3 separate regions of the Homo sapiens genome follow, and regions 1 and 2 are each linked to region 3. Evidence: fine-mapped expression QTL. A gene starts in region 3. Each other region holds a variant in brackets. All regions are shown on one strand. Distances are between the middles of the regions. Region 1 overlaps SMTNL2 (smoothelin like 2). Region 2 overlaps RABEP1 (rabaptin, RAB GTPase binding effector protein 1). Region 3 holds the start of NUP88 (nucleoporin 88).

Evidence for each region. PIP is the estimated chance that this variant, and not a neighbour inherited with it, causes the effect. A credible set is the group of variants that fine-mapping cannot tell apart.
Region 1: its variant is the best candidate, but not a certain one, in a credible set for the expression of NUP88 in CD4 T cells (BLUEPRINT, PIP 0.82).
Region 2: its variant is the best candidate, but not a certain one, in a credible set for the expression of NUP88 in cerebral cortex (GTEx, PIP 0.68).

What each region holds. Positions count from the first base shown.
Region 1 is chr17:4,588,779-4,598,567 of GRCh38, forward strand. It overlaps SMTNL2 (smoothelin like 2), which reads left to right. Exons shown (of 8, transcript NM_001114974.2): 2 at 3,583-3,670; 3 at 4,151-4,393; 4 at 5,044-5,119; 5 at 6,367-6,549; 6 at 8,082-8,199; 7 at 8,394-8,545. Among named protein-coding and RNA genes, the nearest start is that of SMTNL2, 9.1 kb to the left of the region's middle. RefSeq lists an enhancer at 4,098-4,669. The variant G/A (reference allele first, on the strand shown) is at 5,393.
Region 2 is chr17:5,383,446-5,393,234 of GRCh38, forward strand. RABEP1 (rabaptin, RAB GTPase binding effector protein 1) reads left to right here. Exons shown (of 18, transcript NM_004703.6): 18 at 1-2,895. NUP88 (nucleoporin 88) reads right to left here. Exons shown (of 17, transcript NM_002532.6): 10 at 8,116-8,217; 11 at 5,357-5,515; 12 at 4,334-4,459; 13 at 4,160-4,225; 14 at 3,941-4,021; 15 at 3,539-3,665; 16 at 3,263-3,381; 17 at 1,388-2,824. The coding sequence ends at 2,761. Among named protein-coding and RNA genes, the nearest start is that of NUP88, 31 kb to the right of the region's middle. The variant CAT/C (reference allele first, on the strand shown) is at 3,100.
Region 3 is chr17:5,415,184-5,424,972 of GRCh38, forward strand. NUP88 (nucleoporin 88) reads right to left here and starts at 4,479. Exons shown (of 17, transcript NM_002532.6): 1 at 4,171-4,479; 2 at 1,330-1,499. The coding sequence starts at 4,467. RPAIN (RPA interacting protein) reads left to right here and starts at 4,999. Exons shown (of 7, transcript NM_001033002.4): 1 at 4,999-5,108; 2 at 6,113-6,283; 3 at 7,586-7,646. The coding sequence starts at 5,028. RefSeq lists enhancers at 3,841-4,480, 4,116-4,653, 4,654-5,191, 4,921-5,040, 5,051-5,270.

The DNA.
Region 1 (9,789 bases), 830 kb before region 3:
CCCTAGAAGGCCAGAGCACTTTGTGGACAGAGCCCTGGTTTGGGGTGGGAGACCCGAGTCCCGTACTTTGGCTCTGCCACTACCTTTAGTCATGGTGTGGGGTTTAGGGGTTCCCCCTGCCCCACCCCACGTCTTGCTTTCCCCATCTGTGTGATGATGGGTTGGAGGATGGTCTCAGAATAGCCCCTTGCGCCTTGACCTAAGGCACGGGCAGACCCCTTTCCCCAGGTGACGAATGCTTCTAGTCGTGGGGCAGGGGAGCTTGGGAGTCTGGGCTCAGCCCTACACCCCAGCCTGCATTAGCCCAGCCCCTTCCCCTCCTCCCTTTGCCGGAGAACCCTTAGCAGTGATCTAACCAGGATAGAACTTACTCCCAGTCTGGTGTAGCGCCTGGTCCCCTGGGGCATCATGGGGGTTGTTGAGGGGCTGCAACGTGCAGGGACAGGCATCTGCGGAGGGCCTCCCACCCACCTATAGAGAAACATATTTCCTGGGAAAATGGTTTCACCCTCAGCCTTTCCCCCCAGAGCCCCGCCTGGACCTGTGGAACCTGTCAGACGAGAGCAGGGTGGGTGAGGGGGCACGGAGACCCCAGAGCCTGGTGACTGTGGGGGCCGGGGTTCCAGCTGGACTGGCTGGTTCTCCTCCCCCTGCCGACATGGTCTACACGGCCGCAGCGTGGCTCTAGGGGCACCCGTTCTGCTCTGCGTGCTGGGAGACGCCCTGTGCTTTTCTTGCGTTTCTGAGAGTGGGCCTGGCCTCTCCTCCTCCCACTCTTGAATCAAGAGCTCAGGGGTCGCCTCCTCTCCAAGGCTGGCTCTTCCCAGGCTCTGGGTCCTGTCTGCTGTGAGCTCCCCAGTGGTCCCGCTCTGCAGATGCTCCCCTCACCTTTCTCACCCTATGAATGTGGTCTTGCCTCTTCCTTCTGGAAAAACCCCTCAGACCCTTTCCCCTGGCTTCGCTCAGGGCTAAAGTTACTGCGCTGTCTTCATTTCTCTGGGACCCCTCTGCTAGGCCATCTCCTGTCCCCCAACCCCCTGTCCCCCGCCCCACGCTTCTGATCACCCATGACCTCTTCTTTTGCTGAACCCAATGGATGCCTGGTTGGATTTCCTCTTCACCTTTTCCTCAACCCCAGGCTGCCTTTGGACGCACCTGGCTTTTTTTTTTTTTTTTTTTTTTTTTTTTTTTTTTTTTTTTTTTTTTGAGACAGAGTCTCGCTCTGTTGCTCAGGCTGGAGTGCAGTGGTGCAATCTTGGCTCACTGCAACCTCCATCTCCTGGGTTTAAGCGATTCTCATGCCTCAGCCTCCTGAGTAGCTGGGATTACAGGCACCCACCACCATGCCTGGCTAATTGTTGTATTTTTAGTAGAGATGGGGTTTCACCACGTTGGCCAGGCTGGTCTTGAACTCGTGACCTCAAGTGATCCACCCGCCTCGGCCTCCCAAAGTGCTAGGATGACAGGCGTGAGCCACCGCGCCTGGCCCCGTGCCTGGCTTCTTGACTCCCTTCCTTCCTGGCCTTGGCTTTCTCACCATTCTTCAGGGGCTCCTCCTACGTCTCTGGCTGCTCCTCATTCTCCGCAGACTGCTCTGTTGCTTCCTGAAATGTGGGGGCCTCATCCCAGGGCCCCTAAGCTGCTCTTCCTCTGCTGGGCTTCCAGGAGCCCAGTGCATGCCCCTGACTCCTGTTTTTCCATGTTCGTCCTTCTTTTCTCTTAAACTCCAGACTCAAAAATCCAGCTACCTCCTCAGCTCCCTGATGCTCCAGGTGCCCCAGGCCCTCAACATGTCCCAACTGAAACCCTCATTTAGCCCCTAAACCTGCCCTGACCCACCAAGTCTGGGCTTGGGAGAGGCTTGGCACCCTTCCTCTTCCATGTCCACCCAGTCTCCCAGCCAGATCCCTTTTCCCCAAAGCTCCGAGTCCTTCTTGCCCGTGGCCCTCCCAGTGCCCCATCTCCCCTCCCCAGGTTCCTGCCCAGGACTAGTGAAGTGTCTTGCCATCTGGTCTCCACTCTCTGGCATCTTCTGAAGGGTGTGCCTGAAACACAGAGCCGAGGACCTTGGGCTCCTTCTTGTCTAAGGCGTCAAGTACCCAGGGCCAGCAGCTTGGGCGGCAGGGCAGGCAGCTTGGGCGGCAGGGCACTTCTCCATCTGCCTGCGTCCTGGACGGGCATGATCAGGATACCTGTGCCTTGATGTCTCTCTGCAAAAGCAGACACTAATCACTCTGCTGGGAGTGCCCTCCCTTGCTCCTCCACCGGGCTCACTCTGGATGTGGCTCAGGCACCCCTGCCTCTGAGAAGCCCTCCTTGCCCCACTGGGTCAGATGAAGCCTGTGTGAGGCATCCTTATCCTGACACGGCCCCCTCTGTTCACCAGCCTGGCTCCCCTCCCAGACTGATTCCCCAATGGCAGGGTGGCACCTCCCGCACTGGTTGCAAGAGGAGCTGAGCCATCTGGGGCCAGGGATGCAACATCATTTGCCTGGGAACCTTGTAGACCAGGGGGCATCTGGGAGAGGCACAGCCGACCTCTCAAGCCGCTCGTCCTGGGCTCGTGGTGGAGCCCCCACCAGCCCCACAGACACTCTCAGCCGTTCACACGCCCTGGCTGTGAGGAGGGCAGGACCAAGGTTGAGGACTTCTCCCCTGGCCACACGTGCCAGCTGTTTTTTGCTGTATAACTTTGGGCAGGGCACATGCCCTCTGGGAGTCCTCGGGCCCCATCTCTGAAATGGCTCTGGCAGCACCTACCGGGGAGGACAGTTGCTATAAGTGGTGTTTAGAAGGTGTTGCTATAAGGATAGCACCGGAAAAAGGGCTGGATGTTTGGTAGATGCCGAGTGGCACTTGCCTAGCCTGCTCCCGTTTCTCAAACAGGGAAACAGACCCAGAGGGGAACTGATGTGGCCCAGGTCACATGGGTGGGTGGCAGCACAGCCTGGATCCCAGGCTCCCCACTGGCTCTTGGCCTTGGCTGTCTTGTCTGCCCCCACCTGCCCCACCCACTACTACTGCCCAGCTGGGATGGATGAGTCGCACGGAGCTGATCAGGCGCTTGCACTCTGCATAGCCGGGTAAATCTTGTGTCCCCGCCTCCCATGCAAAGATCTCATCGTGATCAGGGCTCCGTAGCTCATCGTTGGCCCAGAAGGACCTGGTGCCACTGGTTCCTGCTGCCCCTGCACGGGTAGCCATGCCGACCTGGCCCAGCTGAGAGGGGCAGGGGGCGAGGCACTCCTGACCCCATCATCTGGTCCAGCCTGGGGGAAAAGGTGAGGGGGCCTAATGTCATTGGAACCCTCCATCTTGACTTCTGTCCTCAGCTTTTTGGGACTCTGGGAGGAGCCCAGTGGAGGTGTTTGCCTCCCAGGATCGCAGGGGCTCAGCAGTTGGAGTGGGGCCATCCCAGCTTTTGCTGTGTGACTTGGCCCGTCACTTTCTTCCTGGGGGCTGTTTTCTCTCAACATGATTGGTGTTTTGCCAGAACGGGAGGGGATTTGGGGGTGGGCAGCTTTTGGGGGTGGGCAGCTGGCCCTAGCTGATGGGGTCTCGGTGACATTTGTGTCTCTGTAGAGTTTGGATCACGATGAGGCCAGTGAGTCGGAGATGAGAAAGACCTCAAACTCCTGCATCATGGAAAATGGGCACCAGCCGGGGGCAGGTAGGGCTGACGGCAGAGGAGGGGTGGCTGGGTAGGTTTGGGGGTTAAGTAAGGCCTTGGTCAGGTATCTGTGCCAGGCTGGCCCTTGGCCTGGCATCGGGGGGACTCTATCCTGAACCCCAGCAGGGAGAGAGGCTGCCAGGAGAGCAGCGTCATTCAGTAGAACTTGTGAAACACAGAGGGAAGTTGGGAGATCTCAGGAGGTAGTGAGCTCTCCTGTTTCTAGAGGAAAGCAAATAGAGGCTGAGGAGCCGACTAGTATTTATTAAGCTGGCCATGAGGGGAAGTTGGGAAAAATCAATTCTGGTTGGAGCAGTAAGATATCCCTGGTAGGGGAGGTCAGAGAGGCTGGAGCAGTCAGGGAGGCCTTCCTAGAGGAGGTGGGAGGAGGGCCCAGGGAGGCTAGAGCCCTCCTGGGAGGTCCCAGGCCCCTGTGGCTGCCACAGCTGACCACCCACCCATGCTGGTCACATGTTCCAGGTCCAGGCGATGGACCCCCTGAGATTGCCCAAAACTTCTCAGCACCAGATCCCCCCAGGCCTCGTCCTGTGAGCCTCTCCTTGCGGCTGCCCCACCAGCCAGTCACGGCCATCACCCGAGTCTCTGACAGGTTCTCTGGGGAGACCTCAGCTGCGGCTCTATCACCCATGTCTGCTGCCACCCTGGGGGGCCTCAACCCAAGCCCCAGCGAGGTCATCACGCCCTGGACTCCCAGTCCTAGCGGTATGAGCTGGAGAGCGTGGCCTTGGGGCAGACCTCCCCTTGGGATGGGAGAGGGAAGGCCGGGGCTGGGGAGAGGGAGTCGGTGGGTGACATGGAAAACGAGGGGCTAAGCCCAGCCCTGCCTCTGCCTGCCATGTCAGCCCCTTCCCTTAGCCCATCCTCCCGGGCTACTGCCCAGAGATGCTGTGAAATAGCGTCATCCCCTGGTGGGGGCGACCGTGGCTTTTATTACAGTTGGAAGGTGGCCTCTTGCCCTGCACGTTGGGCACTGTCCCCTCCCTCAAGGCCCCAGGCCTGACTTGGGCCTGTGGCCAGTCCTCCGTGGTATGTCCTGGGGGAAGCCGTGTGGGCCTCTATAGGGAGGGTTTGGGAGCAGTGTTCACTGGATACATGGCACGGGCCCTGGGCTCTGTGCTCTCAAGAGCAGGGCGGGGACAGTTGAAAAGACCTCTTTGATGTTGTTGCTGTGTGTGCCCATCCTCCTTTCTCCTCCACTGTCTGCTGAGGCAGGGCCAGCTTAGCCCAGAAGGTTAGCTCATCCATGCAGCGATGCCGGGTAAATGAGGCAGGGCTGGGTCAGAGGAAGGGAGGCTATGGCGGGCCCTCCCTGGGGCCAGGGTTTGTTACTTCTCTCCCTCTCTCTTCCACAGAGAAGAATTCCTCTTTCACGTGGTCTGTGCCAAGCTCTGGCTATGGGGCAGTGACAGCAAGCAAACACAGCAATAGGTGAGTCAGGGCCTGTGTTCCTGTGGGGTCGCTGCGCCCCAGGTGTCTTCTCTGCTTTGGACGCAGGCCGCCCAGGGTTGGCCCTGGGGTTGGTGCCTCCTGGTAAGGCTCGGGGCTGGATCTCGGGAGCACTGGGCGGCAGGATGGGGGGAAGGTCTGAGCAGGGGGAGTGAGGCAGTGGGCCTCGGTGGAGAGTTTCATTTGGAGAAATATGGTCACAGCCTGGTTTCTTTGTGGGACCTTCAAGTCAGTCAAAAGATTGGAGGAGTGGCC[G/A]GGCGCGGTGGCTCACACCTGTAATCCCAGCACTTTGGGAGGTTGAGGTGGGTGGATCACCTGAGGTCAAGAGTTCGAGACCAGACTGGCCAACATGGCAAAACGCTGTCTCCACTAAAAATACAAAAATTAGCTGGGCATGGTGGTGGGTGCCTGTAATCCCAGCTACTTGGGACGCTGAGGCAGGAGAATCGCTTGAACTCGGGAAGCGGAGTTTGCAGTGAGCCAAGATGGTGCCACTGCTCTCCAGCCTAGGTAACAGAGTGAGACTCTATCTACAAAAAATAAATAAATAAATAAATAAATAAATGAATAAAAAACAAAAAAATATTGGAGGAGGCCTCTCAGCCGGCAGGAGGGAGAGGACAGGAGCTTTGTCTTCTTCCATCCCAGCCAGCTGGGGTCCCTCAGAGCCCGGAACTTCCTGCCCACGGGCTGCGAGCAGGGGCAGGTGAGCAGGTCCTTCCCTGTGGCACAGGCCTCCCCCCAGCCAGCCAGCGGGACTGTGATTGGGGATGGGGGTAGGGTAGCAGGCTTGGCTTTTTTTTTTTTCTTTAATAATAAAAGGAGAATTGTGACTTTCTGGCAAACCGTTCTGGGGAAAACAAAGGGGGTCTTATCGCATGGTGGTGGAGGCAGGAGGCCTGGTCCCTCCGGGGCTGGTTCTGAGCACACCTCCTGCCTGAGGAGGGGGTCCCTCTGTCCTCCCCAGGCATTGACACCTGCAAAGGGGTGGTTATGTCCAGATCGGGCCCAGCGTCTCCTGAGTTGAGCCTATTGGCCAGTCCCTCCAGCCAGCACAATTCAGAAAACCTGTCAAACCAGCTAGGGACCGGAGCAAGGGGGCCTCTTCTCTGAGCGCCCATCACGGTGCAGGCTGCCTTGTCCACACTCAGTGCAATGGAGACCTTGGGGCCTGGTGAGCTAGTGATGGCTGCTGGGCCCAGGTCCCAACTCGGCGATTCTTTCCTCAGCCCACCGCTGGTGACACCACCCCAGTCGCCCGTGTCCCCGCAGCCGCCAGCCATAACTCAGGTCCATCGGCAGGGGGAGCGTCGCAGGGAGCTGGTGAGGTCGCAGACGCTGCCCCGCACCTCGGAGGCGCAGGCCCGGAAAGCATTGTTTGAGAAGTGGGAGCAGGAAACGGCGGCCGGCAAGTACGGATGCCCACTCACAGACAGGCCCGGCCCCACGGTGTGCCCAGACCCAGACGGGGCTTGGGTGGGTGCAGCAGGGCAAGGTTCAGCCCTGTCCTGTTCCCCAGGGCGCTGTTGCCCAGGACAAGATCTCTTGGGCAAGGCACAAAGTTAGGGCTGGGCCACAGGGCAGCTTGGGGGGACAGAGGACCCCAGTTGTTGGGGGAGATGGCTGTGAGGCAGGGAGCCAGGAAGGCTTGGTGAGAGCCCCTCTCTCCTCCTCCATTCCCGAGGCCCCCTGTCCTGTCTCTGGTGCCGCCAGGCTGCCCTCACACCCACATTCCCCAGGGGTTGTGGCTCCTCTGGTTTCTGGGCATGACCGGGGACTGGATGGGGACTGGGATTCCTGGCCAGAGCTGGGAGCCCCAGCATGGGGTTGGTCTTGCCCAAGGACCGAAGGTGATGCCACGGGGCCGAGTGGCCTCCAGCCTGCTACTAGGTCTCGAGCGACGGCTCCTCAGGCTCCAGCCCACCTTTGCATATTCAGCCAGTCCTCGTGTCAGTGCATGGTATTGATGCCTGCTGTGTGCAGAGTGTGGCCCAAGCGTGGTATTGATGTCTGCTGTGTGCAGGGTGTGGCCCAAGCGTGGTATTGATGTCTGCTGTGTGCAGGGTGTGGCCCACGCGTGGTATTGATGCCTGCTGTGTGCAGGGTGTGGCCCAAGCGTGGTATTGATGTCTGCTGTGTGCAGGGTGTGGCCCACGCGTGGTATTGATGCCTGCTGTGTGCAGGGTGTGGCCCAAGCGTGGTATTGATGTCTGCTGTGTGCAGGGTGTGGCCCAAGCGTGGTATTGATGCCTGCTGTGTGCAGGGTGTGGCCCAAGCGTGGTATTGATGCCTGCTGTGTGCAGAGTGTGGCCCAAGCGTGGTATTGATGCCTGCTGTGTGCAGGGTGTGGCCCAGGCCTTGTGGGATAATGAAGACGACAGCCAGTCCCTGCTCGACTCTAGTGAGGGGGACCGACCCCGGACATCTCCCCACTGGCCCCAAACAACCTGGCCTAGGCCATTAGGGACTGTCCTTGGGGCCCAGAAGAGGAACTCATCCCTCCTGGCTAGGAAAGAGCCATCAGGGAAGGAGGCACCCCATTAAGAGGGGAGCTCAGAAGGAGGAGTGGGAGGAAGGAGCTGGGAAAGGTGTTCCAAAGCAGAAGGCAGGGGCCCAGGGCCATGTGAGCCAAGGTCTTCTGTCTCAGGATTCCCAGGTGACCCCTGCTTCCTGGATGGGGAATAAACAGGGGACCTGGAGGGCTGTAGGGGTGTGGACGGTCCTGCCACATACCATCAAAGGAGGCTGTGTCGCTGGTACATGGGCTGTGCCGTGGACGTGGGCACAGCTGAGCCCACGTGTGCCACCAGCATCTCCCCTGGGTGAGCAGAGCAGGTGGGAGCACCCTCCTTGGTGGTGCCAGGACAGCCTCCCCTGCCCCAGACCCGCACTGGGAGATGGCAGCTGGAGGGGCCCCCGCAGCAGGCCTGCCGTCTCTCCGCAGGGGGAAAGGCGAGGCCCGGGCCAGGCTGAAGCGGTCGCAGAGCTTCGGCGTGGCCAGCGCCAGCAGCATCAAGCAGATCCTGCTCGAGTGGTGCCGCAGCAAGACGCTGGGCTACCAGGTGAGCCCCGGCTCCCCTCCGGCTGCTGGGACGCCCCAGCTAAAAGCTTGACCAAGCGTCGCCCCTGTCCTTGTTCTCCCGCCTGGGCAGGAGCCCGCTGAGGCTGGGGTTAAGGGGTAGGAACCACGGTAATTATGCCTTCCGAGTGGGTGCCCAGCTGCCCTCCCGCACTGACCCCACTCACCCTGTTGCAGCACGTGGACCTGCAGAACTTCTCCTCCAGCTGGAGCGACGGCATGGCCTTCTGCGCCCTGGTACACTCCTTCTTCCCCGATGCCTTTGACTACAACTCCCTGAGCCCCACGCAGAGGCAGAAGAACTTCGAGCTGGCTTTCACCATGGCCGAGTGAGTATGGTGGCTCCTGCTGGCTACCAGCCCCAGCCCAGTCCCTGAGCCCAACTTCTTCCCCAGGTGGGGCATGGGGGCGAGTGGGATGTCGGGCCGCTGTCTGCAAAGCTGAAGGACCCTGGGGCCATGTGGTCTGTGTACCTCTTGTGCAGATGGGAAGACTGAGGCCTGGAGAGGGATTTTCCCAGAGTCACACAGCACTCAGTGGTGGAGGGGGACTCCGTTCCTGGGGACCTGCCCTTTTTGCTAGGTGCCCAGCTTCTGAGGTGCACTCTGGGAGACCAGCCACAGACCAGGCATGAAGGGCAGCAGGACAGGGTCCCCCAAAGCTCTGAATCTGTCCTCTCTGGACTGATGGAGAGATGCCGTTGCTTGCATGAGCCACAGCTGCCAGTTAGCAAGGAACTGGATATGACCTGGGCCACTTAAAAGGAGATTTTTGCTTCCAATAAGATTTTCCTTCCCGAAATGGTGTTCTGGCATTTATTGTGAAATTGCCTAGCTTCTTAGGTCCCACCTCTAGGGTGAAGATTTGGGGGTGGCTCTGGGGTCAGGAGGCACCTGGAAAGCCAGTTCGGGATTTGGTTTTTGGCCGAGGGCCTCAGGAGAGTTGGCAAAGTCAGGTCTGTCTGCCAGGGCTCCAGCGGCGGACGGGGGCACAGTCAAGAACTGGGCGAGGAGAGTTTAATAAAGGGACCCTTTACAAAGGCGTGGGCAGGAATGAGGTCGTGGGTCAGGCCTCATGCAGCAGCCTCGGGATAACAGCAGTGTGGCGGATCTCAGCCCGTGGCCTGGGTGCGGAGGACTGTCTGATAAGAGCTGCGCTTTGGGCAAATGGTTGCAGTCAGCTCGCTGCGACCTGGCAGGGAGGGAGCTGTGGATAAGTGTCCCAACCTCATTCCCCTCCTGCCTCACGCCAGGGCCTCATGGTGACTGAACCCAATCTGAAGACAGAGGGCCAGGGCTGTGGTTCATCCTGGCCCCCAGGGCAGGGAGCAGGGCACAGATGAGTGGTGTTCGGGGCTGCCCAATGCTAAGCTCTCTGAAGCTCAGAGAGAAGTAAGGCCGTCCCCAAAGCCGAGTCTTCTGGAGGGCGCGTTTGTTATTCTCTCCCTGCCTTTGTGCCTTGTGTTGTCAGCCTCTGACGTCGGTCTACAACCGACCTTGTTTGTTTCTGGTCTGAGTCCTCAGTGCCCACATTTAAGAGTGGTCCTTGGCCGGGCACGGTGGCTCCCACCTGT
Region 2 (9,789 bases), 32 kb before region 3:
CAGGCTTGATTCCAACAGGCGTGGGATCAGATTTGGTGATGGAAAAAGCGCTGTTTCCTTGCCTGCTTTCTCCAAGACAGATTTTCGGAACACATTTCCCTACCCTAAAGCGACATCCCAGTAGTGTTTGGAATTTTCTGTTCATAGATATTGGAAGAGAGAATTTGCTTTATCTGTTGTCTAGAGCTCATCAGTAACAGTATTCAGTTAGCAGACAGAAGTGTAGTATGCTGTATGAATATTTTATATTAAAATATGAAGGTTTGAGAGCAGGCCATTGGCTACTGACTGTATTTTGTTTTCCTTTTACCATTTTATCTTATCTTGCTTTGGAGGACCTTAAATGCTACTGAAACTTACCTGAGAACCATAGGACTGTGGCAAACAAAACCAATTCATGAAGTGAATTAATGATGAGGATCTGAAAACTTGGCTGGGGCTATATATACTGGAAGTTGAAGGTTAAAGGAAAAGCACAAGAAACTTTGGAAGCACTTTTTCTGCATACTTAGATGATCTTCATGGGCCCACAGGGTACCAGGATAAAGCCGAACTGGTACCATCTACTCTTTTGAAGTGTTTTAGTCTAGTTATTGGATCAGTGAAAAACATTAGTATACGTTTTTAAATAGGCTAATTTTTCAACTTGGATCATTAGGCTTACGTACTACTTGTTTCAAATGTGTCAAATACAAAAATGGTAACTAGGTTGACAGATACTTTGTATTTTTCTTTTGAATTCAGACCTGGAATGTAAGTAAGTGACAATGCTTATGGAAAGCCAGTTAGTTAGAATTGGAAATCTGTCTTGTCATTTTACAAGCATTAGATTCCTTTCCTGTGTGAAGAAAGCCTCAGTGAAACAGGTCTTTGCCATAACTTTATGAAGTGCTACAGAAAGCACAAAGAATTGATTCATGTTCATCAATACCTGCTGAGAGTACTGTCCCAGGAATATCCAGTGGATGGATTCATCATCCAGGAGGTTCAAAAGTAAGATGGTTTTCAAATCATTTTTGAGACTGGTTGCATAACAGCAGGGTACCTGAAAGAGCCTTCTGGGAGTTAGTGAACTAGGTAGATTGTTTTGTTCACATAACGCCACCATCAACTTAAAGTGAATTGTCTTTGTTATAAATGAGGTCACTATGGACTTACCCTAAAGATCTTCTGTACTTCTGTCTTCCATAGGACAAATGATAAGTACTACATACCTCATCTCTTGGGTTATTATTGTAGTCTTGCATTCATGGTTATGAATTTAAAAATAAATACCAATTATGGAAATAGTACTAAAGGCTTGCCGCACATGAAACATTATTTTAATTGGTTTAAAGTCCCTTTATAAAGAGTGCTACATGGTTTAGATAAAGGAAACATATAACTATTGAGTTACAGGGGATTTTATTAATTATAAAATGCAATCAATTTAAATTACGTAGGTTTAAGACTAGTCCCTTGGATAAGCCCCAAGCGAATTTGTCTTCAGATTATTAAAATTAGTGCTGTAAATCAGGGTGGGCAATTCACAGCCTTTCTGAACTGACTGAACTAGAGCTTGCAGTGAAGTGTTCTGCTGAGACTGAGCACCTTACAGATATTTTTCTCCAGAAGATGGTGCTGGGTAATAAAATCATCACAATTAGGGAATGGTTAGTGGTCTCTACTGTGGCAAATGCCAACTGTTGGAATTCACTTTATTGTAGAAAAACCCAAACTGAGACTCTTAAGTTTTGTTTAGCAATGTGTTTCTGGTATGAAACAAACTACTGTGTCACTGTCCAGGTAGGAAACAATTCTTTCAACTGGGTTTTCAGCATAAATGGGAACTGATGTAGAAGGCAGGATTTAGCCCTTCTAGGCAAAAGAAAAGCTCAGTTGGGTTTCACGAGTGTTCCTGTGCTTATATTCAGTCTGTGCCTACATGTTCTCATGCATGTCTAACCTGATTTACCTCTTACCTGTAACCTACCTTATCATGTGGCTTTTAATTGACAGTCACTCAGCCATTTCTAAGCAGATATAGTAGTACCTTTCAGAACTCACATTGGCAAGTGTAAAAAGATGACTTAAGGTGAAGTGAGGACAAAATCACATTCTGCATACTAACCTATTTTTTTCTCCCTTTAAGGTGCTAAACTTGCACCTCATGTCCACTCAGTAACAAGTATTGGGACGTAGAGCACAGCCTCACTCAGCTCTGAAAGGTAATACAGCTTGTGAGGAAGTGAGCCAGCAGTGGCCTTTGCAATTGTGGATCTTGAGCTCTGCTCTCAGCAGATTTCAGGTGTAACCATTTGTTAACTGTACTGAAGGTGTGTCCTCAAGAAGAAAGTGTTCAAATTAAAAAAGCTGCTGCCAAGTACACTGTGTGGTCTTCTCCTTTGAATCCTAGGGTTCTATCCCTCTTCAGAGTCATGTTTCTGGTGCTGCTACTTTAAAACACAGCTCACAAGAATAACTAACTTGCTCAAATATGGAGAAAACTCAATAGGGTTCAGGGAGGTTCTGGCAGTGTGCAGTGTGAAATAATCCTGAGTCCTTGCTGAACACAACTGTAGGCTTGAGTTATAAAGCACATTCCAAATTTTAAATAAAAGCATTTACTCAATTATTATAAAACAACATATTTAAAAAGATGAACCACACCAAAGGTCATCAAAACACCTTTTTATAAATTAGATAATTCTACCTGTTTTACAATATGGGTTTAAGCCTTCAATGGTGTTCAGTTCAGGTGTGAGTCAGCTCCTGGTGGTGTCAGAAGTTTACATGATTGCGGATATCATTGATTTGCTTCACCATTTCCCTTATATGTTCACCCCTGTAAAATTGTAAAGTCACTCACTTTTGGAATTATAATAAACCATTTATATGGATTCTTAAGAATTTAAACTGGTAATGTTGAAACATCTAAGAACTGCTTTGCTAAAATTAACAGCTGAAGGTTTCAGGTGGATAGCAATAGTGTTCACTATTCATTTAAGGTGGCAAACGGTGCAAGTACTGGAAATATTTTTGAACATAATTACTGTAAAATACCTTTGGCCACACAACAAAATCATGTTACTAGAAGGTCATCCCTTTCAATCCTCCCAC[CAT/C]AGTCATTTCTTAAGTCCCTATGTATCATGTGGCTCTCATCCCAGTAATTACTTGACATGCAAATACCAAGATTCAGGTTTCTATTAAGACAGGTTGATTCTGGCATACTGTAAAGGAAAAACTATCTCACGATAATAGCTGATTGGAAGTATTTACTTACTCCTCTTTCAGGATGGACTGAATGCACTTTCGCTGGTAGGCACTGAGAATAATGGTGGGTTTTGGAAGACTCAACACCTTCTCCATCTTTTGCTGTTGATAATCCTTTTTCATAGTAACCTTAAGTATTAAAATAATAGATATTTTGGCAGTGGTTTGCCACACATTTTCACAGTATCTATTTGAATCTGTTCTTTTTACATTTTTGTAAAATTTTCTGTAGAATAAGTGCTTTAAGAAAAATTACCAAATTTAGCTAGTTTGGATCTATTCCTACCTGTTTGATGGCATTGCCCAAATGTCGAAGTTGATCAGGTATCAGCTGTAATTCTTTCTTCATGTCTCGCTCACTATCAGAGAGAACTGGGAGCTCAGAGTGAAAACTGTGAAGTAGTTTTTTCATCCTTTAGAAAAGGCAAGCAAACATCTCAATTTAAGGTCTCTACTAATTAGGAGAAACATAATCACAAGCTCATAATTCATGAATCTGGTGTTTCTGAAGTAGGCCCCATAGGAAGGGTTAGGGGAGAGCCTCATGTTTTCCCCAACATATACTTCAGAGGAGAGGCAGGGGGATCAGTTCAGTTCCGTAGGTATGTAAGCACCTGCCAATGCCCATTTTCTTAAATATCGTTGTTAGTACCTGACTAGGTAACTAAATGTTATACAGCCCACTGACCTGTTCATGATATCCTCTTGTTTTTCTTTAGCTTCCTCATATTTGTCAGCTAAACGCTCAGCCATTTCCCGCAGACTTTTCCTAATGATGTAAGACACAAGAGACTCTTGAGGTCCACCCCTTGATGCTGAAACCACCTAATGTGGCTCAGCATCTTAGGGTGAGAATATGGTTCCAGTCTTACTGACCTATTGTATTCTTCTTATTTTTGACACTTACCTCTCTTCTCGACAATAACTGAGATCTTCTAGTTGTTTCTTTTTTTGGTCACATAATAATTTGACCCTTTAAAAACAAAAAGAAATAGAGTTTATTCAGAAGCCAGGTCTAGGCTACCATACAGCATCAGCTACCAGCCAGGGATCGATGGTTTGTGAACACAGGACATCATACCTCCGCTGAATCTCCTCCTTTGCCAAGTCCTGTTTGAGAATGTACTGCTCTCTGAACACCTGGGTGGCTCTGCTGAGGAGCTGAAGGCATTCTTCAGGAGGAGGGGCTATGTCCTTTTCAGAAGCTCTTAAAAACAAAGTTTCTACCTTTATTTTCCTTAGCTGAGTAAAACAACTGAAAATAAATAGACTCAAGTCACAGGTGCTTTTTAAACTTTTTATATTTTTAATTTATTTATTTGAGATGCAGTCTCGCTCTGTCACCCAGGCTGGAGTGCATTGGTGCTATCTCGGCTCACTGCAACCTCCACCTCCCAGGTTCGAGCAATTCTTCTGCCTCAGCCTCTCGAGTAGCTGGGATTACAGGTGCCCACCACCACGCCTGGCTAATTATTGCATTTTTAGTAGAGACAGGGTTTCACCATGTTGGCCGGGCTGGTTTTGAACTCCTGACCTTAGGTGATCCGCCTGCCTGGGCCTCCCAAAGTGCTGGGATTACAGCTGTAAGCCACCGTGCCCAGCCTAACTTGAGACGAGTCTCACTGTCGCCCAGGCTGGAGTGCAGTGGTGGGATCTCAGCTCACTGCAACCTCTGCCTCCCAGGTTCAAGCGGTTCTCCTGCCTCAGCCTCCCAAGTAGCTGGGATTACAGGCATCTGCCACCACACCCAGCTAATTTTTTTTTGTATTTTTAGTAGAGATGGGGTTTTGCTGTGTTAGCCAGGATGGTCTCGATCTCCTGACCTCGCGATTCACCCGTCTTGGTCTCCCAAAGTGCTGAGATTACAGGTGTGAGCCACCACGCCCGGCCTAGCCTAACTTCTTTTTAAACACTTCCTGTTTATCATTCTCAGGTGCCACTTCCCTCCTGCTCCCCATTCACTAGCTGATCAAATATATCCAGTTTCTTCCAAATTTATCACAGTAAAAAGTATATGAAACAGATGAGGACAGAAAGGATGCACAGTAATTCTGAAGACAGAAGAGAACCCATTCATAAAACCGCTATGCCCAAGGTTGCATACTTCAAAAATGCTGGATTGGCAACACTACGTTGCAAAATGCTTCTAATATGCTTTTCAAAGGAATCTGGGGTTTCAGCCAGAACACGGAGGGGAGACTCTGCCACTTCAACATCTTCTCGAGTACAAAGCAGGGGAGGAGACGCTGGATGGACTGTACTTCTGCAAAATAAGTAAGTAAATTGAATTCTACCATGGAGTGATTTACTGTATTACAGGAAAGCAGAAACCACATTAATCCAGAACTTTCAGAATATAAAATAAAGTGTAACTTTTGTAAAAGTGCAAGAATGCATGTTTTCCACCTTGAAAAGGTCACTTTGGGAAGCTACACCCTTATTATTCCAATGCCCCTGATTTGTGAAAGCATTTCTGACTGCCATTTCCAGTTCTTTTCTAAAAGATCAAGGCAGCACAAACACCTAGCATGGATTCTTGGCAAAGGACTTGAAAGCCAGTTTATAAGCCGGAGCCACAAACATAAATTACTTATTTGTTAGGTTTAGAGTTGATCAAAACCAATATTAAGCCAAGAAACTGCTGTATATACCATATTGGTTCTATATAATTTCATTTCTAAAAACTATTCAGTCAAGTGCAAATACTCAAACTTCAAAAAGAGCTTAAAAGATCTCACAGACTTCGGCAGCATGGCAAGTGACTTACTCTGAAGGCAACAATTCTAACGTGAATGTTTGGTTGGGCGTGGTGGCTCACGCCTGTAATCCCAGCACTTTGGGAGGCCGAGGCAGGTGGATCACTTGAGGTCAGGCGTTCAAGACAAGCCTGGCCAACGTGGTAAAACTGTCTCTACTAAAAATATAAAAATCAGCTGGGTGTGGTGGCACACATCTGTAATCCCAGCTACTTGGGTGGCTGAGGCATGAGAATCGCCTGAACCCAGGAGGCGGAGGTTGCAGTGAGCTGAGATCACACCACTGCACTCCAGCCTGGGTGACAGAGCAAGACTCTGTCTCAAAAAAAAAAAAAAAAAAAAGTGAAAGTTCATGAAATAGCATAACTTTATAGACAACTTGTATTTCAGGGAGTTGGCAGAAATATGATCTGAAAGTATCCAGATAATTGGCCTGGCACGGTGGCTCATGCCTGTAATCCCAGCACTTTGGGAGGCCGAGGTGGGTGGATCACCTGAGGTCAGGAGTTCAGGACCAGCCTGGCCAACATGGCAAAACCTCATCTCTACTAAAAATATAAAAATTAGCTGGGCATGTGGTGTGCGCCTGTAATCCCAGCTACTAGGGAGGCTGAGGCAGGAGAATCACTTGAACCCGGGAGGCAGAGGTTGCAGTGAGCTGAGATCGTGCCACTGCCCTCCAGCTTGGGCAACACAGCAAACTCCGTCTCAAAAAAAAAAAAAAAAAATATCCAGACAATTAATGTTTATTTTTCCCCTTTGGGATTCATATTTATTCTGAAGTAAGCTAGTGTGACTAGGTTTTATTTTACTAAATGTACTGTGGGTGTTTAAAAAGTATGCTGAGGTAACTTACAGGTAATTTTTTCTCCAGTGATTTTATTATTTTTGTTTGGTCTTGCTAGCTTTTAGTGCCTTCAGTGTAAATAACACAAAATTTATATTTATTTTTACATCCAGATAGTACAACTTAATCAAGCTTCAAAGACTATGGAAGATCCTCTAAGGACAGTAAACTACTGCCAGTATTAGGAATTTATGTCAGCATCCAGAGGTGCAAGCTTTGAACGGACAAGGGGTGGGGGTGTTGTCTAGTGTTTGAAGCTCCAGTGACTTTTGTTTTTGGTACTCATATTCCTACATTTATGTAACTCAGAATGATCTTCCAGGGCTGTTGGAAAAGGAACATAGTGATTACAGCTTAATTATCTGAGTTCCTTAAAGGAGCAAAGACTAAGAGTTCAGCTTTTTTGTTTTTTTTTTTAAAAGACACAGGGTCTTGCTCTGTTACCCAGGCTGTAGTGCAGTGGCATGATCATGGTTCACTGCAGCCTAAAACTCCTGGGCTTAAGCAATCCTCTCACCTGAGCAGCTAGGACTACAGATGTGTACCACCATGCCTGGCTAATTTTTTTGTTTTTTGTAGAGATGGGGGTCTCACTGTTTTGCCCAGGCTGATCTCGAACTCTGGGCCTCCCAAAGCATTGGGATTACAGGCATGAACCACCACTGCACCCAGCCTGAGTTCAGCTTTATTCCAGTTTACATAGTCTACAGTGTCCCTCAGGCTGGCAGAGATGGAGAAATTAAAGAGTATGAGTATGGACTTCTGAGTCAATGAGACCTGCATCTGTATCCCAGCTCTATTTGTTACCTGTGACTTCAGCATTTACTAACCTCTCGATCCCCGTTTCCACTTTTATAAAATGGAAATGACAGTGCCTTCCTTACAGGGCTGCCCTGATGATTCCAGGAGGCAGTGCGGGTACGTGGCTTACTTCTGAGCTTGGCGTATGGTCACAGCTTGATAATTATTACTCATATCGATAATGGAATTTGGTATTCAATTTTAGTATTTTTTCTCCACACTCTGAAGAAAAGCTCCTGACTCTCAGCTAGGTGCAGGGGATGCCAGAAACTATACCTACAATGAAACCTTATAGAGATGATGGCAGGAACAGAAATATCCATCCTTCCAACCCTCAAGTCAGAAGCCAAAGTATAAACCACACATGTATAGCTTCAAGTTGGTTACTGAGTGCATTTTCCCAACTTAGATATTGCAGAATTAACAAGAGCTGTGTGGAGAATATAAAATGGGACGTACAATAACGGCCATATGAGGCATTCATAGGTACTGGTGATGCAGATCATCGTGGGTCCCAGAATGTCAGGTACAATCCAAAATCCTCGAATTGGAGCTGGCTGCCTGGAAAAACACAGTCATAGTTAAATTACAAAGCAGCAAATGCAATGGAACCAAGAGCAAAGACATGACAGGTCCGCGGCCTTCTCAGGCCTGGGCTGAAGTTGCTTGGGACATCCTATCAGTACCATAACCTCAAAAGTGGTGGCTTGGAAACCTTTAATGCAGCTCCACACTAAAGTCTAGAGCCCATGTGACTAAGTCACTCAGGAATCCCTAACTGTAGCGTGCTGCTGACTGTAATCTCAAAAGTTACACGTTACACTGAAGATCTCTCCAACTTGCACATAAGCCCCAGCTATCTTTGTTTGCCTAGCCCAGTGCTAACAAATTAAGTGCTTAGAAACTGTTGAATGAACAGAACTACCGAGTCTCTCTCAATGAGGCCCAATGTCAATGTCACAGGAAATCACTTGGCACGCACAGCGTGTATCTCTCTCAGTCTTCCTTCCCACTTCAGTGAAGACACTGGAAACTGAGACCTCAGATGGGAACTGTCATTCTGCCAACATGCTCTCCTAGCGGCTCCCATGCCCATCCCACCTGCATGCCTACAACACACATCTGCCCCCGAATGTGGATGCCGCCTCCTCTCACACCTTCTGAAAATTGTACCATCAACTGTGTCGTTTCAAAATCTCCCTATTATCTACTTCCCCTCAGCTTGCAAACTCATGTCTCTTCCATTTAAAATACTCTCATTTCAATATAATGTCCAGTTCCCCTTAACCTATTCTTTCTCGCCATCCCTTTAGAACCAGCAGTCTTTAAACAGCAGTTGAAAACACTAGTTCCCCTTCCATAGCTCCCATTTACCTTTTTGGACAAGACATGGAGACGATATCTGGAAGGTTGTAAACTTTAACTTTTTATTATCAGTGTGAAATCTACACACTACTGGGCTATACACTATGTAACCAGTATCCAGGTCAAGAATCAGGACACTGCAGGGGGCCTCAGGGTTCCCATGCGACCTTCCCTGGTCATAGCCTTTCACTCCCCAGAGAAGTAGCCGCTACTCTGACATTCATAATATCATGTCTTTGCTTTGCTTTATAGTTTTCCTATCTATGTATTCACTCCTAGGCAAGACTGTTTAATTTTACCTGTTTCTGAAATTGATATAAATGGGATTTTGGGGTTTTTTTGAGATAGGGTCTCACTCTGTTGCCGAGGCTGGAGTGCAATAGTGCGATCACGACTCACTGCAGCCTTGACCTCGTGGGCTCAAACAATCCTTCCTTCTCAGCCTCCTGAGTAGCTGGGACCACAGGTACATGCTACCACAGTGGCTAATTTTTTTTTTTGTTTGAGACGGAGTCTCACTCTGTTGCCCAGGCTGGAGTGCAGTGACATGATCTTGGCTCACTGCAGCCTCCACCTCCCAGGGTCATACGATTCTCCTGCCTCAGCCTCCTGAGTAGCTGGGATTACAGGTGCCCGCCACTACACCCAGCTAATTTTTTTTTTGTATTTTAGTAGAGACGGGGTTTCACCACGTTGGCCAGGCTGGTCTCGAACTCCTGACCTAGTAATTCGCCTGCCTCAGCCTCCCAAAGTGCTGGGATTACAGGC
Region 3 (9,789 bases):
TTATTTTTTGTATTTTAGTAGAAATGAGGTTTCACCATGTTGCCCAGGGTGGTCTCAAGCTCCTGAGCTCAGGTGATCCACCTGCCTCGGCCTCCCAAAGTGCTGGGATTACAGGTGTGAGCCATCGTGCCTGGCTCCAAATTATAGCATATTTCATACGTATATATACATTTTAGGATGGTTTGACTTAGGATTGATACATATTTATACAGTACAAGTGTTTTCAGATATAGTATCTCATTTGATCTTTTTACTAACCCTGTAAGGAAATTACAAGGGCAGATATTATCAATCCTATTTTTAAAATGAGGAAACAGATTTAGAAGGTAAACAGTTTAAGGGGACTCAACTTATAAGTTGCGGAGCTAAAAGCAGTTTCTACCTTATACAGATGATCCCCAACTTTACAATGGGTTTACCAGTACATAAGCCAACATAAACTGAGGAGCTCCTTACGACTTATGATGGGGTTACCCATCATAATGTTGAAAAATCCTACGTTGAACCATCCTAAATCGGGGATCCTCTGCTGTGTTGTCAGCAATAAATCCATTTTCAACTTACACTGGGTTTATCGGGACATAACCCAATCGTAAGTTGAAAAGCATCTGTACTCTTTTCAGTAGATCTTTCAGATTCACTTTTCTGGATTTGTTGAAAAAGAAATTATATAAAAATAGGCCAGGTGCGGTGGCTCACACCTATAACCCCGGCACTTTGGGAGGCTAAGGTGGGTGGATCACTTGAGGTCAGGAGTTCAAGACCAGCTTGGTCAACATGGTGAAACCCCGTCTCTACTAAAAATACAAAAATTAGCTGGGCATGGTAGCGCTTGCCTGTAATCCCAGTTACTCGGGAGGCTGAGGCAGAAGAATCGCTTGAATCCAGGAGGCGGAGCTTGCAGTGAGCCGAGATTGTGCCACTGCACTCCAGCCTGGGTGACAGAGCAAGACTCCATCTCAAAAAAAAAAAAAAAAAAAAAAGTATATATATATATACACACATACACACACACACACACACATAAAATACTTACACTTCTGGCAAACTTCTGGCTGACAGATAACTGGTTTTACAAAATCTTACTTCTACCTAATCGAAAGAATGGCCTAGCCTCAAATGAGACAGCAACGTGGTACTTCAGGCAGAATAAAGTACAATCAATTACACATATACTATGAACATTGATAACACAGAAGCCAGTCTGCAGACCACGAGGAGTGTTTTAATGTTTTAAGAGTAGTATACTAAACATGCTTAAGAACCACTAGTCTTGAACAATTTTCTGTATATATAATAAATTATACAGATAAATAGTATACAACTTACCTACAATTCACTGTTGATTTTCCACCTTCAAATTCAGAATTCTTCCCCCATCTTTTAGGTAATTCTAATACCATAAGTCCTTTTATTCCTATAAGTGCTACATGATGTTGTGTTGGGCTTAACAAGACTTGATAGATTTCAAACAGGGGTGGATTTATGCAAAGCAATCTCTGAAAATTAGAGCAAACCAGTCAACATAGTTAATTTTAATTTAAATATAGGTGGCAGTTACTTGAAATCACAGTAATACTTAGTTTACTACAATTATAGGATAATAAAACTCTGGATAAGTACTCACACTTGTACCATTAACTCACAAATTTTTTTTTTTTTTTTTGAGACAGAGTCTTGCTGTCACCCAGGCTGGAGTGCAGTGGCAGCCCACTGCAGACTTTACTATGGGGGTTCAAGTGTCCTCCCCACCTCAGCTTCCAGAGGAGCTGGGACTACAGGTGTGCACCATCACTCCCAGCTAATTAAAAAGGTTTTTTTTGTAGAGATGGGGGTTTCGTCATGTTGCCCAGGCTGGTCTGAACACCTGTTCCCGTGCTCACAAGATCCACCTGCCTCCACCTTGGCCTCCTAAAGTGCTGATTATAGGCTACAGCTACCACACCCAGCTTACTCATGCTTGCTTTTAACATCCAAAGTTACAACTCATGATAAGCTGCTTTCTTCCCCATCTCTAAGGTTTTGAGATTTTGGAGGAGTGAAGGTTATTGAGATAGTCACCAATATTTACTGAAAGCTTATAAATTCTGGGCACTCCAGCATTTCTGTATGCTGGACATACAAAAATAAGTAAATAGCCAGGCGTGGTGGCACATGCCTGTAGTCCCAGCTACTTCCAGGCGCTGAGGTGGGAGGATCACTCGACCCCTGACAGTAGAGGCTCCAATGAGCCGTGATCACACCACTGCACTCCAGCCTGGGCAACAGAGAAAGACCCCATTTCAAAAATAAAAAATAAAATACGTTTTTAAAAAATGACAAGGGCAGACCCAGCCCCTGCCTTGGAGCTTACAGTCTAGAAAAGAAGACAGAGGCAGAGTGCCATGGCTCACGGCTGAAATGCCAGCACTTTGGGAGGCCAAGACGGGTGGATCACCTGAGGCCAGGAGTTCCAGATCAGCCTGGTTAACATGGTGAAACCCCGTCTCCACTAAAAATACAAAAAGTAGCCGGGTACGGTGGAGTGGGCCTGTAATCCCAACTACTCAAGAGGCTGAGGCAGGAGAATCGCTTGAATCCATGAGGTGGAGGTTGCAGTTAGCTGAGATTGCACCACTGCACTCCAGCCTGGGCAACAGAGCGAGATCCTGCCTCAAAACAAAACAAAACAAAAACAGCCGGGCGCAGTGGCTCACGCCTGTAATCCCAACACTTTGGGAGGCCAAAGCCAGCAGATCACGAGGTCAGGAGTTCAAGACCAGCCTGGCCAACATGGCGAAACCCCGTCTCTACTAAAAACACAAAAATTAGTCGGGCGTGGTGGCAGATACCTGTAATCCCAGCTACTCGCGGGGGGGGCTGAGGCAGAAGAATCGCTTGAAACTGGAAGGTGGAGGTTGCGGTGAGCCGAGATGGCGCCATTGCACTCCAGCCTGGGCAACAAGAGCGAAACTCCATCTCAAAAAAAAAAAAAAGACACAAAATAATTATAAATAATTAAGTTATGATTATGTCAAATGCTACACAGCAGTATAGAATGTTATTAGAATACTGCGTGCTGCACATTTGGTAATTATTATTATTTTTTGAGACACAGTCTTGCTCTGTTGCCCAGGCTGTAGTGCAGGGGCGTGATCTCAGCTCACTGCAACCTCCTCCTCCCAGGTTCAAGCGATTCTCCTGCCTCAGGCACCTGAGTAGCTGGGATTACAAGGGCGCGCCACTACACCTGGCTAATTTTTGTATTTTTAGTAGAGACGGGGTTTCACCATGTTGGCCAGGCTGGTCTCGAATTCCTGACTTCAGGTGATCCACCTGCCTCTGCCTCCCAGTGTTGGGACTGCAGGCGTGAGCCACCGCGCCCGGCCTTCATAATTCTTTTTAACTGAAATTGGGTAAATAAGTAGACTGTAGACTCCTGCCCTATTTTCAAAACTGCAGAAGCATTGCTAGCGTCTTATTAAAATTAAATCACTTCTCGGTAACAAGAATTGGACCGGGCACACAACAGATGTCATACCTTAGAATGAGTACCAAGCTCTTTTTCATCTTTAAGAGAATCTGTGTATTACAAATAAACATTTCCATAAACCAATATTTGACCACGGCAAGTGTGTAATACTTTCTGGATCACACCCATTTTCACATGCTGTCGGCTAATCAAAAACAAAAATCCCCATTTTGGGTATGGCTTTATTTTCTAAAGCGGGCGTTACGGGGGTAAGAATTAACAGAGACTTCCTCCTCCATGTCAAGCATGAAGCGTGGTGCTTTGAAACCTGCAACCTGACTTGCTGTGCACAACGCAAGAGAAAGTTACGATCTAACCTATTATAAGCGTCACATCAGGAAACAGGTTTCTCTCGACGAAACTAAAAATAGCAACTCCGCCCACTCGTTCTCAACCCCTTTAGCCCGCTTTGTTTTTCTCCAGAGCACTCATCCGTCACTAGTATTTTTATTGAATATTCAATGACCCTTTCCTTCCTCCCAGGCCTCCAGGCCGTAAGCATCGAGAGAGCCTGAGTCCCCGCGACCGCGTATGGCAGCGTCGGAGTCAATCCGCTGGAACGCCTGCCACAAGATGAAAAACAGCCAAGAGGAGCAAGGAACAAAAAAGACTGGTTCCGATCCCGGTGAGGGTCACTTCCAAGATCGGCCTGGCATTACCTGGTACTGGGACAGGGCGGGCTCTTCGCCGCCGCCGCTGGGGCCCCGAAGGCGAACGACTAAGAAGGAGCTGTCTTCTCCGTCCCACAGGAAAAGCTCTCCGCCGAGGCCAAAGACCACGTTTCTCGTCAGCAACTGCGGCGGCGGCGACGAAGGCAACGACGAAGAAGCTGGTTTCTCAGCTTCGGTTGGACTCTGGTTTTTCAGTCCCTCCCGGAGCCGCAAGAACACGACGTGGTTAGGAAGCCAGGTCTGCCACAGCTCGCCGTCGCCCACCGGTCCCTCGGCGGCCGCCATCTTGGCCCAACTGCTCCCCTCACTCCAGTTGCTCAGCCCGCCGCTGAGCACAGCCAATCCGCGGCCGTCCACTCACTGTTTCGGCCAATCACCGAGCAGACGGCCCGGAAGCTCGAGAGGCTCGTGCCAGGTCGGGGGGCGAAGGCGAGGCCAGCCCACCAAGCAGGGGCGTCACCAAGGGAAAGCCAATCACCATTATTTCTGAAGCCCAAGGGGGCGGGACGAGAAGTCAACATAATGGTGGTGCTGCTGGAAATCTAGCACCTGGGGAGAGCCTGAGACTTGTGTATCTAATTGCCTATTGGACACCTCCATCTGGGTAAACCCAGGCATCCAGAACTTTCCCTCAAGACTTACCTCCCTCAGTGCAGGTCGGGCTGGCCTCACGCATTTCGCTTGGATGCCTAAATCTGTCTCCACGTGGGGCCGGTCGATAAAACAACACTTCCCAGAATACGCTGCGATCCATTCGCGGTCTGCACCCGGAAAGTACACCTCCCAGGGGTCTGTGCGCGCCTCCAGGGAACGGGTCTTGTGGCTTTGTCTCCCGCGAAGAGGAGATGGCGGAGTCGTTGAGGTCTCCGCGCCGCTCCCTGTACAAACTGGTGGGCTCGCCGCCTTGGAAAGAGGCTTTCCGGCAGGTGGGTATGGGGTTTGTGCAGTGGTCTACCCTAGATCGTCCCGGTGACCGCCGTCTTCCCTGCCTTCGCCTTAGCCCTGCTCCGTGGAGCAGGTGCCGCAGCGCGCCTGGTCTGGTCAAACCCAGGCCTGCTGACTGTAGAGTGTGGGATTAGCCCGGGTCGGTCAAGTCCTAGAAAGCCTTGTTTTTGGATTCGATTTTGTTTTGAATTTAAATTGTGGTCAGGACATCACCGTTTGCACCTCTGCAATAACACTACCTACTGTTGCTGCGGAGGTGGCCACCGAGAGAGGCACTTTGTCTACGTTCGTCTTGTGAGATAGAGATGATTTCTATTCTAGAGAGTAGTAAAATGAGGCTTAGAAGAGGGCTCCACCTCAGTTCTGGCCTCTTCTGAACACAGTGTGGTTATTAGTAAGTAATGTCCAAGAAAGTAACCCGACGCAAGAAAGATAGCAGATACAGCAGAGTTTCTCAGCCTTGACAATGGACATTTTGAGGGAGATATTTATATGTTGTGGAGGGTTGTTTAAGCCACGTCTCGGGCCTCCACCCACTAGATGCTAATAGTCCTATAACTAGAATTGTGACAACCAGAAATGTCTCCAAGCATTGCCAAATGTTCCTTGGGGGACAAAACCTCCCTGAGTTCAGAAACGCTGCTGTGCAGGAAGGCCGTTACCCAGCCATATCTAGAGTAGCAAGAATTTGGAAGGAATATAAATGTTCTGTAATAGGACATTGGATGCTGAGATATTATGCACACAACCATTAAGGAAACTGGCAAGCTAGAATAAAAAATATGGTTCTTTGTAAATACGTGTACAAAGCATTGTAATTTTATGTATCTCTACAGAGGAATATGCAAAAGTAACACTAGTTAGTATTATCATTGAAATTTTGTGTCTATAAACTTTCTTTAATGTTTTCTCAACTAATGTAAGAGTGTTTTTTAAAAATAGAAATGCTTTTTTTTTCCCCCCCAATCTTGCTCTTTTTTCCCAGAGATGCCTGGAGAGAATGAGAAACAGCCGGGACAGGCTCCTAAACAGGTACCGCCAGGCTGGAAGCAGTGGGCCAGGGAATTCTCAGAACAGCTTTCTAGTTCAAGAGGTGATGGAAGAAGAGTGGAATGCTTTGCAGTCAGTGGAGAATTGTCCAGAAGACTTGGCTCAGGTCAGGCTGGGCTATGTGTTTTCAGGGAGGGGGACTGCACCACCAAGAACGGCTCGTGTCCTCTTTTATTTGTTTACTTGAGTCCTCTAAACCCACCATTCCCCTAACCCCATTTAGAATTCAACAGCCTTTAACCCAGGCTTTTCTACACTTAATGTTAGACTTGTCTAGATGAAATGGTCTGAAATACCAGACCGTAGACCTGCTCATCACTGCAACATCATCATTTATGAAACTAAAAAGAAAGAAATTTCATTTCTTGCCTCCACCCTTGGAAATTATGATTCAGTAGGCATAGGCTAGGAATCTCTTTCTCTCCCTCTCTCTCGCTCTTTTTTTTTTTCTGTCTTGCTCTGTCGCCCAGGCTGGAGTGCAGTGGCAAGATCTCGGCTCACTGCAACCTCCACCTCCTGGGTTCAAACGATTCTCCTGTCTCAGCCTCCCAAGTAGCTGGGATTACAGATGTGTGCCACCATGCCCGGCTAATTTTGTTTCTGTTTTAGCAGGGATGGGGTTTCACCATGTTGGCCAGGCTGGTCTTGAACGCCTGACCTCTAGTGATCTGCCCACGTCAGGAATCTCTTTCTAAAAAGGTCTCCAGAAACTTTCCGATTCTAATCTCAGCCAACGTTGGCAGCCATGTGTGGAAGGGAAAACCATTTATAGTGTATCAGGAAGAACACTGGATTCGAAGTCAGGAGTTCCAGAATTCAAATCCTGGTTTGGCTATTGACTGTTAACTTCAGTTTGCCTCTTTGAGGTTTAGTTTTCACATTTATAAAATGAGAAGATAATGTTTTCAGCATTGTAAGGACTGTGTAAGAAAATGTGGGCAACTGTTTGAAACCATCAACACCCTGTGTAATAATGATGCATTATTCAGTGGCTTTTGTGTGTCCTGCAGTACACCAATGTTTGCCTTATATCACCACAACTAGTACTCACAGTAACCCTCTTAGATAGATTTTATTCCCACTTTACAGAGGCCAAAACTGAGATTTGCAGAGATTAGGAACTTTTCATGTGGTTACGTAGCCTTGGAAGAATATGTACCTAACTGCTACCCTATATCGTCTCTCCAAAATTGGGTACCATTATTTTGTCACTGGATAGTTGGATCATTTGTTGATGGCTTGTCAGCATGACAGCATTACCCCACTGTCAGCATATTCTGCAGGAGGACTGGACTGATTTTGTCCAATAAATCTGGGTTCTTCAAGCCAGCCTCCAAGTATGAATCACTGTGGGGCTTGGTTGGTGATTAATACTTCAAACTTCTGATGCCGCTCCTTTCTCTTCCAGCTGGAGGAGCTGATAGACATGGCTGTGCTGGAGGAAATTCAACAGGAGCTGATCAACCAAGGTAACCCCTAGTGGTAGTCCTTCCTTACCTGTATTTAGCTACTGGAATACTGTGACCTTTCCTCCAATCAGGATTAGTTTATAAGTCCCCTTTGTCTACCTCCATCAGTCAAGTGTCCAAAAGACTCCTTTTGTACTCTGACATCTTGGCTGTCTAGCTTCTCAATAATAAGGGTCTCCAGGGTGCTAGACCTTGTGCTAAGAACTTCTCATTTAATGATGCTGTTTTCTCCATGTGACTGCCCTGTAAGATAGTAGTATTAGAACAGAAGGTGGTTGGTGTTCTCGTGCAGGTCATACAGCTAGTAAGTGGAGGAGATGGGAAGCAAAATCAGTTGTATGAATCCAGTTCCCATGTTTCTTCTACCATCCTGCCTCTCTATTAATGGGTTAATAGTTCACTGAGGGTGGTGGCTTATGCCTGTAATCCCAGCATTTTGAGAGGCTGAGGCAGGAGTATTGCTTGAGGCCAGTTCAAGACCAGCATGGGCAACATAACAAGATCCTGTCTCTACAGAAGTAAAAAAAAAAAAAAAAAAATTATCTGGGTGTGGTAGCAAATACTTGTAGCCTCCCTCAGCCAGAAGGCTTAGGCAGGAGGATCACTTGAACCCAAGAGTTTAAGGTTACAGTGAGCTATAATTTTACCACCTCACTCCAGCCTGGCTGACAGAGGGAGACCCTGTCACTTTAAAAAATAAAATAAAAAAAAGTAAACCTGCCATTTTACAGGATACAGTGATAGTGCATGGTCTGATCCCTTGCCCTATTCATTTTAAGTGCCACATTCTCTATTAACTCCCCAGGGCCTGTGAGCATCCACTCCTTGAGGGAGGTGTCCATAGCATGGTGTAGAGAGCATAATTTTGTACCTTATATAGTTAAGTCATTTATTCCATGTAGCCCTGATTTGATTAGGCCTTGTTTGGTTTTTGTTTTTGTTTTTTTTGAGACAGGGTCTCTGCCCAGGCTGGAATGCAGTGGCGTGATCACGGCCCACTGCAGCCTTGACCTCCTGGGCTTAAGCGATCTTCCCACCTCAGCCTTCTGAATAGCTGGGATCATAGGCGTGTGCCACCACCCCTGGCTAATTTTTTTTTATTAATTTTTTTTTTTTAGCTAAAGATGATAAAAACAAGACAAAAAATTATTTTATTTATGTATTTTTTTTTTTTTTGAGATAGGTTCTTGCTCTGTTGCCCAGGCTGGAGTGCAGTGATGTAATCATGGCTCACTGTGGCTTCATCCTCCTAGGCTCAACCAATCCTCTCATCTCAGCCTCCCGAGTAGCTGGGACCGCAAGTGTGCACCACCATACCGAGCTAATTTTTTTATTTTTTTGTAGAGACAGGGTCTCACTGTGTTGCCCAGGCTGGTCTCGAACTCCTCCCTGGTCTCAAGTGATCCCCCCACCTCAGCCTCCTAAAGTTTTGAGATTACAGGCATGAGCCAAAATGCCTAGCCTAATTTTTTAAATTTTTTTGTAGAGGCAGGGTCTCACTATGTTGCCTAGGCTGGTCTCAAACAGCTGGACTCAAACCATCCTCCTACTTCAGCCTCCCAAAGTGTTGGGATTACAGACATGAGGCATGGCCCCCAGCCTTAGGCTTCATTTTTATGACCTATAAAATGGAGAGAATACCCTATAAATTTGTTGTAAGGCTTAAATAACGTGTGTAGAAGACTTAGTGCATTGTCTGGCATATAGAGAGCTTTCAATAATCAACAGCTATTATTATGGTGAGGCAAGAGCACAAGCTCTTGAGTCATACCTCTAACATTCACTTGGCTTTACTACTTTAATTTGTGTGGCACCGACCAAAGCACTTAATTTCCCCGTGCCTCAGTTTCTTCACCTTTGAAATAAGGATAATAATAGTGAAGAAGTTAATATATGTAAGGAATTTAAAATAGCATTTGACACATAAGTGCCATGCAAGTGTTAGTTGTTAATGACTGTTGCTGTCGACTCTGGTTAGACTGTAAATTCCTTAAGTTATCATCTTTTTTTATTGATTTTCCCTTCCCCCACCTACAAAACCTATCTTAGTGGTGAAACATAAGCCTGACCAAATGTTTTATTTTGGGGCATACTTAACTAATAAGTCTGAAGTGACAAGGATTTACTGTGTTGTGCTGTACTC